Linked DNA regions of Homo sapiens. The protein of the gene in region 2 purifies or fractionates together with the protein of the main gene of each other region. This does not show direct contact. Each region holds a gene or a part of one and is shown on either strand. Other genes may lie near its edges.

Region 1 (3,751 bases), on a different chromosome or scaffold from region 2:
GGCCCCCGCCCCACCCTGGCCCCTGCCCCGCGCACGCACCCGTGGGCCTGGCACACTGGGAAACGCTTCTCCGGCACGCTGTCCAGCATTTCCTGCATGCCACACACGCAGTACTCCATCACCATATACGTGGGGCGCTAAGGACACACAGCTCAGGGGGCGGCCCCACTCACAGGCCCAGGGAGCACGGGGGCCAGAAAAGGGGCTCTGGAGGGACCCTCTGCACCCACCTTGCCCCTCCTCGGGACCAGGGCCCACCCTGCCCTCAGCCACCCCTCTGAAAAGGCCCAGGGGCCCCAGCGTCCCAGGAGGAAGGAGCCTACGGGGAAGGGGAGGACAGGGCTGACTCTTGGGGCAGCGTTCCTGCGGGGCTCACGTCCCCCACCCTGCCCATGGGCGGGGGATGGTGCCTCCTGGACGCCCCCCCAAGCAGGCTCGGGCCCATGCAGGACGGTCCCAGGGCCCCTGACCGCGTGGCTCAGGGAACACAGCCCCAGCCTCAGGACCACTTCTGGCTCTTGCTCTGGGCACAGGGCCTTAGGAAGCAAAGTCCCCGTAGGGAGGCTGTGCCCGTAAGACCCATGGGGGTGTCCACAGATGACACGAGGACACGCCCAGCCACGACCAAAATGGCCCACAACGGTCAGCCCGCGTGGCCTGTCTCAGGCAGACCGTGGCTACACCCCTGGTTAGCCTGGGAGGAGACTCTGAGAAAAAAGGGACTTGACACCCCACGGGCCCAAGACACAGGGGCCAGGGCTCAGGGCCCCTTTCAGCAAGCTGCGCAGCCATTGCCACAATGGCTGACTTCCGGGGAACCAGGGAAGGCCACGGCCCTCGTGTGCCAGTCTCCTTCAAGGAGACGGGAAGAGGAGCAGGCCTCGAGGCAGGCGGACCCAGGGCCCCAGCCCCTCCCACGGAGGCCCCGCGGTCCCAACACCGGAAAGGATATATTTTCTGCTTCTCTTCGTTGTATAACACATCCACCAGCTGGATGACATTTTTGTGCCGTAACCTCCTCAGTAGTTGAATTTCCCTGGGACAGAGAGGACAGGGGTGTATCAGCCGACCCAACGTCAGGATGATGGCCTGGATCCCTGGAGTCGGCCTCCCCATCTCCCTGTGGAAGTGGCGTACCTCCTCCCTTCCCTAGAGAGAAGCTGTGAGTTCACAGTGCTGTGGGAAAGGGCCCTGCAGGGGCCACGCGTCCAGGCTCAGGGCGGTAGGGGGTGGGAGCACAGCGCCCTCTAGTCTGTCATCGGCCGGCGAGGGCTTTGGAGGACACAGTTAGGACACTTTTTTTTTTTTCTGAGACAGAGTCTTGCTCTGTCCCTAGGCTGGAGCACGGTGGCCCGATCTCAGCTCACTGCAACCTCTGCCTCCCAGGTTCAAGTGATTTCCCTGCCTCAGCCTCCCGAGTAGCTGGGACTACAGGCACGTGTCACCACAGCCGGCTAATTTTTTTGTATTTTAGTACAGACAGGGTTTCACCATGTTGGCCAGGATGGTCTCGATCTCCTGACCTTGTGATCCGCCCGCCTCGGCCTCCCAAAGGACACTCTTAATTGAGCTTTGTAACTCAGTAACAGTTTTGCTTCCTAGAAACCAGACTACTGCAATGGTAGCACAGATGGAGCCCAGACTGTGGCAGGAGCCAGGGTGAGTTGGAGCCCTGGTGATGGCTCCGTCACACAGTACAGTCCCACGCAGCCAAGGGCTCCCAACTCCGAGGGTCCCACTCCTTGGAGGGTGGGCCGCAGGTGAGCTGGAAGGATGGCCCATAGGAAGGGGCAGGCGAAGAAGGAGACGCCACAGAAAGAGACATTGTGGGGTCCTGCCACACCCACCCGCCTGTCACTGCCCCCTCTGCAGCTGCCGCCCAGTTGGCCACGCCCACCTGCCTGTCACAAGGGTGGGGCACAACAGGCCAGAGAGCACAGCCCCCTCTGCAGCTGCCGCCCTGTCGCAGACACTTCATTTCTCCCAGCACTATAGGAGGCCGAGGCGGGTGGATCACCTGAGCTCAGGAGTTCGAGACCAGCCTGAGCAACACGGCGAAACCCTGTCTCTACTAAAAATACAAAAATTAGCCAGGTGTGGAGGTACGTGCCTCAAGTCCTAGCTACTCGGGAGGCTCAGGTGGGAGGATCACTTGAGCCTGTAGTTACCTGTGATCGTGCTACTGCACTCCAGCCTGGACAACAGAATAAGACCCTGTCTCATAAAAGAAAAAATTAAACAAAAACAAAAATGACGAGGAGCAAGGTCCTCACACCCAGTGGGTGGGCGTGGAAGCGTCTGCAGCTTCTCCAAAGGTCTGTTACCCTGTGAGCCAGCAGCTCCACTCCCAGGTACACACCCTGAGGAACAGTACACGCCACGCAGAAACGGAGCACGAGATGCTCACAGCAGCAGGACGCACAGCAGCCGAGATGTGGAACCACCCAGGGGCCCTTCCACAGACGAGGATCAGCACAGCCCATCCACGCACTCAACAAGACTCAGCCACAAAAACCAGTGAGGCTCTGACTCGAGCCACAGCCTAGCTGCACCTTGAGGATGTCACAGTGAGACACTAAAGGACACACAGTGTGTGATGCACTTTTTTTTTTTTTTTTGAGACAGGGTTTCCCTGTCGCCCAGGCTGGAGTGCACCTCCCAGGCTCAAGCGATCCTCCCATCTCAGCCCCGCAAGTAGCTGGGACTACAGACGTGTGCTACCATGCCCAGCTAATTTTTGTATTTTAGTAGAGACAGTTTCACCGTGCTGCCCAGGCTGGTCTCGTTTGAACTACTAGGCTCAAGTCATCTGCCCACCTCGGCCTCGGAAAACGCTGGGATGACAGGATCCCATTTCTTGTTTTTTTTTTTTTGGAGACGGAGTCTCACTCTGTCGCCAGGCCAGAGTGCAATGGCATGATCTCAGCTCACTGCAACCTCTGCCTCCCGGGTTCAAGCGATTTCTCCTGACTCAGCCCCTGAGTCGCTGGGACTACAGGTGCCCGCAACCACGCCCAGCTAATTTTTGTATTTTTAGTAGAGATGGGGTTTCACCATGTTGGCCAGGATGGTCTGGATCTCTTGCTCTCGTGAGTCACCGCGCCCGGCCGACAGGATCCCATTTCTATGCAATATCCAGGACAAGCCAATCCAGAGCCAGGAAGTGGATTCAGAGTGGCCAGGAGCTGGTGGAGGGGATGGAGAGTGACACAATGGGAATGGGGCTTGCTTTTGGGGTGACCGAACGTTCTGGAATTAGAAGTAGTGGTTGCACAGCCGTGTGAATGTACTTAATGCCACTGAATTGTACACTGTGAACGAATGAGTTGTACAGTATGTAAATTCCATCTCCATAGTTTTTTTTTTCTTTTTTAATTCTTAACAGGAAGCCCAAGCATGGAGCATAAAAAACAGCTGGGGGGCCAGGCGCGGTGACTCACGCCTGTAATCCCGACACTATGGGAGGCCGAGGTGGATCACCTGAGGTCAGGAGTTCGAAACCAGCCTGGCCAACATGGTGAAACCTTGTCTCTACTAAAAATACAAAAATTAGCCGGGCGTGGTGATGGGCGCCTGTAATCCCAGCTACTCAGGAGGCTGAGGCAGGAGAATCGCTTGAACCTGGGAGGCGGAGGTTGCAGAGAGTCGAGATCTCACCACTGCACTCCAGCCTGGGTGACAGAGCAAGACTCCATCTCAAAAAAAAAACTTGGGGTGTCAGGGGTATCCCACGACCCAGCCTTCCCCACCC
Region 2 (3,751 bases):
GCGTCTTTGGTCTCATTTTCTTTCAAGTCTCTTATTTTGTCTAATGGATCTTACACCTCTTCTCACTTCTCTATCCAGGGTGGGGCTTTCTCTTTCTGGGAATTATCTGTATTCTGCTACCCCTAGGTCCTGCAACCTCTCCTCTTTTTTTACAGTCTCCACCTTGCTTGCCACTTCTCCATGGATTCTGCTAGACTGCAGTGTTGATTTCCCTGCATGCCCATAGACATTTTGCTAGCTATTAATGTATGCTTACATATCAATAAATTTGTATGGGTTTTCTCTTGTTAACCTACTGTTAGTTTAGTTCAGCCAACTCAGTTATCAAACCTTCAGAAGCGAAATTTAAGCTTCCCTGCAAATTGCTGGTTATTATTTAATATTATTTTGACACAGGGTCTCACTCTGTTGCCCAGGCTGGAGTGCAGTGGCGCAATCACAGCTCACTGTAGCCTTGACCTCCTGCGTTCAAGAGATCCTCCGACCTCTCTCAGCTTCCTAAGTACCTGGGACTACAGGTGTGTGCCACTACGCCCAGTTAATTTTTTTATTTTTTATTTTTTTTAAGAGACAAGCTTTCGCCATGTTGCCCAGGATGGCTGGTCTCAAACTTCTGGGCTCAAGCAATCTTCCTGCCTCAGCCCCGCAAAGTGCTGGGATTACAGGCATTAGCCACCGTGTCCAGCTGGTATTATTTTTATTAGTGTTCTATCTTGCACTTCTGAGTATGTTTAAGCTTCCACCTGTCAGCTTCAAGGGCTTTTTTCTCCCAGCTAATGCCTAAAAGGCAAACAACCTTATTCTACTTCTCATTCACCCTCCTCTTTTCCTCCCATTTTTTTGCGGGTTATATTATTTCTACAATGTCAGACCATGTAATATTTATATACTATTCTATCATCATTATCCTCATCTTTTAATCTTGATGCTACACACAAAATATATTTGATTTGCTCACCACCTGACCTTATGTTGAAGATTTTCCAATCATTTCTTGGTTGTCTGAAATTTGTTCTCTAGTATACGCTTCAGAAGGATTCATGGGAACAATTATAGCCATTTTCCTTGAATTATTTCATGTTTATAAATGTTTGTCAATGCCCTGAATTCTTGAAGGGTAGTTTGGTGAGATAGGAATTATTTTATTTCTTTGAATAAATACTTTCTTAATATCTGACATAAAATGTTGCCACCAAAAATCCAATCTGATTTTCTTTGCAAGTGACCTGCTCTTTTTATTTCCCCCATCAATGCAAGAAGGGTTTATTTTTAAAAATCCAACAATTTTACAGGACCACATCTCAGTGTTAACTGTTGTGGGTTGATTTCTCCAGGTTTACAGTATGCCTTTCAACATATGTTACATTTAAACCTACTTTAATGTTAAGCGTTCTTGAATTACAGTCCTAATAGTTGTTCTGGTCCATTGCTTTGGCTTGCTTTGTTTTACTGTAGTAAAATAAGGAACATAAAATTTACTGTTTTAAAGTATTCAATAAGTGGCATTAAGTATATTCAGTGTTACATAAACATCACCACTATCCTTGGGCTTACATTTGGGGAACTCCATTTATATTTATTCTGGCTCTCTTTGCCTGTCTTGTCACCTCTTGACTCCTTTTTAAAAATCTTTTTATTTTCTTCATTTTTCCATTTTTCTTATCGTACTTTCTGTGATGTATATTCACTCTTGGTTTCTAATGCAATCATCACTTTAAACTGTCTTTTTCTTAATCTTTTATTGAGTTTTGTCTGCTCTCATTGCACCTCCTTCTATGGTCTAGCCATCTCATTTCTTTTTTTCCCCTGAAAACATAGAAAGAGGTGAATTTTATTTACTTTTTTATAATTTCAAGTTCTCTTTTAGATTTGGGGGTACATGTGCAGATTTGTTACATGGGTATACTGTGTAACGCTGAAGTCTGGAGTATGACAGATCCTGTCATCCAGGTACTGGGCATTATACTCAACAGTTAGTTTTTCAACACTTATTGCATTCCTTCCCTGCATAGTATTCCACGGTTCATATGTAACCAATCTATCCCTGATGGACACATAGGTTGATTCCACATCTTTGCTATTGTGACTAGCACTATGATGAACATATGAGTGCATGTATCTTTTTGGTAGAACAATTTCTTTTGGATATACACCCAATAATGGGATTGCTGGTCAAATGGTAGTTCTGAGTTTTTTGAGAAACCTTCAAACTGATTTCCACAGTGGCTGAACTAATTTACACTCCCACCAACCGTGTGTAAGTGTTCCCTTTACTCTGCAGCCTTGCCCACATCTGTTGTTTTTTGACTTTTTAGTAAGAGCCATTCTGACTGGCGTGAGATGATGTCTCATTATGGTTTTGATTTGCATTTCTCTGATGATTAGTGATGTGGAACATTTTTTCATCTGTTTATTGGCCACTTGTTCTTTTGAGAAGTGTCTGTTGATGTCTTTTGACCACTTTTTAATGGGTTTTTTTTTTTTTTTTTTTTGCTTGTTGAATTAACTTCCTTATAGATTCTGGATATTAGACCTTTGTCAGATGCATAGTTTGCAAATATTTTCTCCTATTCTGCAGGTTATCTGTTTGCTCTGTTAATAGTTTCTCTTACTGTGCAGAAGCTCTTTAGTTTAATTAGGTCCTACTTGTCAACTTTTGTTTTTGTTGCAATTGCTTTTGAAGACTTAGTCATAAATTCTTTCCCAAGGCTGATGTCCAGAATGTTTCCTAGATTTTTTCCTAGGATTCTTACTGTTTGAGTTCTTACATTTAAATCTTTAATCCATCTTGAATTGATTTTTGTATGTGGTGTAAGGTAGAAGTCCAGTTTTGTATGTGGTGTAAGGTAGAAGCCCAGTCTTATACACATGGCTAGCCAGTTATCCCAGCACCATTTATTGAATAGGAAGTTCTTTCTCCATTGCTTCCTTTTGTCAATTTTGTTGACCAGATGGCTGTGGGTGTACAGCTTAATTTCTGGGCTCTCTATTCTGCTCCATTGGCCTATATGTCTGTTTTTGTACCAGTACCATGCTTTTTTGGTTACTGTAGCCTCAAAGTATAATTTGAAACAAGCTACACATTCAGTAGCACTGAATGTGTAGCTTGTTTTGGGCAGTATGGCGATTCTAATGATATTGATTCTTCCAATCCATGAGCATGGAGTGTTTTTCCATTTGTTTGTGTCATCAATGATTTCTTTCAGCAGTGTCTTGTAGTTCTTGTAGAGATCTTTCACTTCCTTGGTTAGAGGTATTCCTAGGCAGTGTGTGTGTGTGTGTGTGTGTGTGTGTGTGTGTGTGTGTGTGTATGGCTATCGTAAACAGGACTGCATTCTTGATTTGGCTCTCTGCTCCAACATTATTGGTATAGAAACGCTACTGATTTTTGTACAGAGTTTGTATCCTGAAACTTACTGAAGTTATCAGTTCCAAGAGCCTTTGGTGGAGTCTTTAGGGTTTTCTAGGTATACAATCAGATCATCAGCCAAGAGAGATAGTCTGACTTCTTTTCCTATGTGGATGCCTTTTGTTTCTCTTGCCTGATTGCTCTGGCTAGAACTTCCTACGTATCTCATGTCTGAGCTCTTATTTCTGAATTTATGTGGTTCTTTCAAAGATTTCATCTTTTCCTTAAATTCTCTTAGCTTACTCTGAAATATTTAGATTGTCATTTTCATCTGCTTTGTGGCCACATTTTTGGGGTATGTTTTCATAATCTCGTGCAATGTTTTATGGCTTATTTTGATGA
Region 3 (3,751 bases), on a different chromosome or scaffold from region 2:
GAAGCTGAGACAGGAGAATCGTTTGAACCCAGGAGGGAGAGGTTGCAGTGGGCCGAGATCGTGCCATTGCACACGCCAGCTTGGGTGACAGAGCGAGACTCTGTCTCAAAAAAAAGAGTGAGCTAATTTCACCCATAATGTTACTATACAAATCGTAAGAATAATCAATAAGGTTAAAACATGGCTAAAGGCTCATTAAGAGTAACCTGAAGTCAGAGATTTATACTTAAGGGTGACAATATGGCGTAGTAAAAAAAGCACATACTCTGAAATAAGACGAGCATGGTATGAATTGCGTTCTTGCATCTGTGTTAACTTGATCAGCATACTTTGGCTTGCCGAATCTCAACGTTAATAACTCTAAAATGAGGTTAATGACATCCGTCTGACACCTGAGACAAATATCTTTCTCCCTCTGATAGTGATGCTTATAATAATGGCTTATGTTTCTAGGAGAGACCTTAAAATTAACTTTTTCAGAGAATTAGAAAGATTAGATTTCAGGTTTCTGATTTAAGATTTTAGAATCTCACCTCTCTCCCAAGGTCCCAATTAAGGCAAAGGAATACAAATAATAACCATATATCTGAGGACAGAATGAGAGGAGCTATTAGATGAAATTTCAATAAATTTCTAGGAGTTGAAAAGTGGACATAAGGGTGCTGTCTCAGGAAATGGAGAGAAAGCTGCAGGCTAGAATGTGAATGGAGAGTATAGTAGAGGAGACGGCAGATATGCCCAGCAGACAATCCTAAGGGGTTCTGAAACAAAACTGCGCAATAAGGAATGAGGGAAGGAGAAGTGGGGCTGAAAACAAGCCCCTGGCGTAACTGCCCACTCATGTCCATGAGTCTTAAATCCACAGAGCTCCCAGTCAGCAGCTTTTCTATTCCTCTTTTTTTTTTGAGACGGAGTCTGGCTCTGTCGCCCAGGCCAGGCTGGAGTGCAATGGTGCGATCTTGGCGCACTGCAACCTCTGCCTCTTGGGTTCAAGGGATTCTCCTGCCTCAGCCTCCGGAGTAGCTGGGATTACTGGCATGTGCCACTACGCCCGGCTGATTTTTGTATTTTTAGTAGAGACGGGGCTTAACCATGTTGGCCAGGCTGGTCTCAAACACCTTAGGTGATCCACCCGCCTCAGCCTCCCAAAGTGCTGGGATTACAGGCATGAGCCACTGCACCCAGCCCCATACACGGTTTTTAATGAAATTATTTTAATGTACTCCAAATAATATTCCAGTAAAATGAGGCTAAAATTTAAAAAGGAAGCTATGAGATATAAAAAGTGGTGTGTCCAGCCGGGCGCGGTGGCTCACTCCTGTAATCCCAGAGCTTTGGGAGGCTGAAGCGGGTGGATCATCTGAGGTCAGGAGTTTGAGACCAGCCTGCCCAACATTGCAAAACACTGTCTCTACTAAAAATACAATAATTAGCCAGGCATGTTGGCAGGTGCCTGTAATGCCAGCTACTCGGGAGGCTAAGGCAGGAGAATTGCTTGAACTTGGGAGGCAGAGGTTGCAGTGAGCCAAGATCACGCCATTGCACTCCAGCCTGGGTGACAGAGTGAGGCTCTGCCCCAAGAAAAAAAAAATAATAATAAAGTGGTGTGTCCACTGAAGAGATATCTCAAGATGATAGCTACGAAGCTGATCAAGAAAGGAATCAGTCAAAACTAGAACATGAAGTTGGCAGGTTGAAGAAAATATAATAATATCATGAAATATACAGATTATAAAGGATGAAAAATATCACGGACAGGGTGGAAAGTGGCCTATTTCTTCCCCCCACGCCCCCCCCACCAAAAAAAAATCAAGCAGAAAGGCAACCAAAAATTCCAACAGAAATTAAAACTATATTTTAAAAGTCAAAGTCCGAATTTGAAACAAACTTAAATGTGTTACAATTTTTAGATAGCATGGCTGGGCACAGTGGTCCACGCCTATAATCCCAGCACTTTGGGAGGCTGAGGAGGGCAGATCACCTGAGGTCAGGAGTTCAAGACCAGTCTAGTCAACATGGTGAAACCCTGTCTCTACTAAAAATACAAAAAGTAGCTGGGCATGGTGGCACATGCTTGTAGTCCCAGCTACTGGGGAGGCTGAGGCAGGAGAATCGCTTGAACCTGGGAGGCGGAGGTTGCAGTGAGTCAAGATCATGCCACTGCACTCCAGCCTGGGTGACAGAGCAACACTCTATCTCAAAAAAAAAAAAAAAAAAAAAAAAAAAAATTGAGATAGTTCAGCAAGGAATGAGAAAGAAAATCCACTTGACCTTGAATGAGAAGGAAGTTAGGACAGTGGACCGCAGTGCAGAATAACACTTGGCTGTTTTGTGAATAATACTTACAATACTGTTAAGTGCTCATCATCAGCTTATAAATTTTAAGTCTATAGACAAAGCATGATAAACTTAATTACAGTTATAGAACACAATGTAAATGCCTTCAAATTTGATAATATGAAAGTAAAGTTTCACCTGACAGAAGATGGGAAATGGAACAGGGAAGAGATAGAGGAATGACTGGGGAAGCTAATACCCCTATCTTCCTAAGAAGGTAAAGTTAATACTGAAAGTTGATAGGATAACAAATAGAAAGTTATGTACAATATTTAAGGTTACAAAGGTAACCAACAAGTGTAAAAATAGAGGGATTCAACTATCAAAAGTTTGGAGGTGCTGGTTGGGTACAGTGGCTCATGCCTGTGTTCCCAGCACTTTGGGAAACAGAGGTGGGTGGATCACTTGAGCCCAGGAGTTTGAAACCCCAACTCTATAAAAAATAAAAAAACTGGCCAGGTGTGGTGGCATGTGCCTGTGGTCCCAGCTACTCAGGAGGCTGAGACGGGAGGATCACTTGAGCTCCAGAGGTGGAGGCTGCAGTGAGCTGAGATTGAGCCACTGCACTCCAGCTTGGGCAACACAGAGGGACCCCGTCGAAAAGAAAAGAAAAGAGAAGAGAAAAGAAAAACGAAAATAAACGAAAAGAAACGAAAAGAAAAAAGAAAAGAAGGGGCTGGGCACGGTGGCTCACGCTTATAATCCCAGCACCTTGGGAGGCCGAGGCGGGCAGATCACAAGGTCAGGAGTTCGAGACCAGCCTGGCCAATATAGTGAAACGCCGTCTCTACTAAAAATACAAAAATTAGCCGGGCATGGTGGCGGGCACCTGTACTCCCAGCTACTTGGGAGGCTGAGGTAGGAGAATTGCTTGAAACCGGGAGGCGGAGGTTGTAGTGAGCCGAGAGTACACCACTGCACTCCAGCCTGGGCGACAGAGCGAGACTCCGACTCAAAAAAAAAAAAAAAAAGAGAAAAGAAAAAGAAAATGAAAAAAAGAAAAAGTTGGGAGGCAGTGAGGAGGGGGTGGTGTGAGATTCAGCATGACCTTTACTCTCTTGGAAAAATAAGGAGAAGCTTCACTAGTCATTTCTCTGTCTCTCCTGTCAGTGGAAAGTCTAAACATGTTGTTTAGAATTACAGAAGTCCATCATTAAAGGACTAAAACAAAAAATGATTAAATTAATTGAGGCCAGGCCCAGTGGCTCTGCCTGTAATTCCAGCACTTTGGGAGGCCAAGGCAGGCAGATCTCCTGAGCTCCGCAGTTCCACACTGCCCCAGGCAATATGGTGAAACCCCATCTCTCCTAAAATACAAAAAATTAGCAGGGTGTGATGGCATGCACCTGTAGTCTCAGCTACTCGGGAGACTGAGGCAGGAGGTTGCAGTGAGCTGTGATTGTGCTACTGCACT

What was found.
Region 1: the proteins of CAB39L (region 2) and STK11 purify together in Homo sapiens (affinity purification with mass spectrometry; 4 studies listed by BioGRID and IntAct, with this or other methods). This does not show direct contact.
Region 3: the proteins of CAB39L (region 2) and STRADA purify together in Homo sapiens (affinity purification with mass spectrometry; 3 studies listed by BioGRID and IntAct, with this or other methods). This does not show direct contact.

The regions. Positions count from the first base shown.
Region 1 is NC_000019.10:1,215,702-1,219,452, reverse strand, and holds part of STK11 (serine/threonine-protein kinase STK11), read right to left. Parts: intron 3,186-3,751; exon of another isoform or gene 3,055-3,185; intron 1,037-3,054; coding exon 953-1,036; intron 130-952; coding exon 40-129; intron 1-39. UniProt on the Homo sapiens protein: Tumor suppressor serine/threonine-protein kinase that controls the activity of AMP-activated protein kinase (AMPK) family members, thereby playing a role in various processes such as cell metabolism, cell polarity, apoptosis and DNA damage response.
Region 2 is NC_000013.11:49,437,450-49,441,200, forward strand, and holds part of CAB39L (calcium-binding protein 39-like), read right to left. Parts: intron 1-3,751. UniProt on the Homo sapiens protein: Component of a complex that binds and activates STK11/LKB1. In the complex, required to stabilize the interaction between CAB39/MO25 (CAB39/MO25alpha or CAB39L/MO25beta) and STK11/LKB1.
Region 3 is NC_000017.11:63,735,050-63,738,800, forward strand, and holds part of STRADA (STE20-related kinase adapter protein alpha), read right to left. Parts: intron 1-3,751. UniProt on the Homo sapiens protein: Pseudokinase which, in complex with CAB39/MO25 (CAB39/MO25alpha or CAB39L/MO25beta), binds to and activates STK11/LKB1.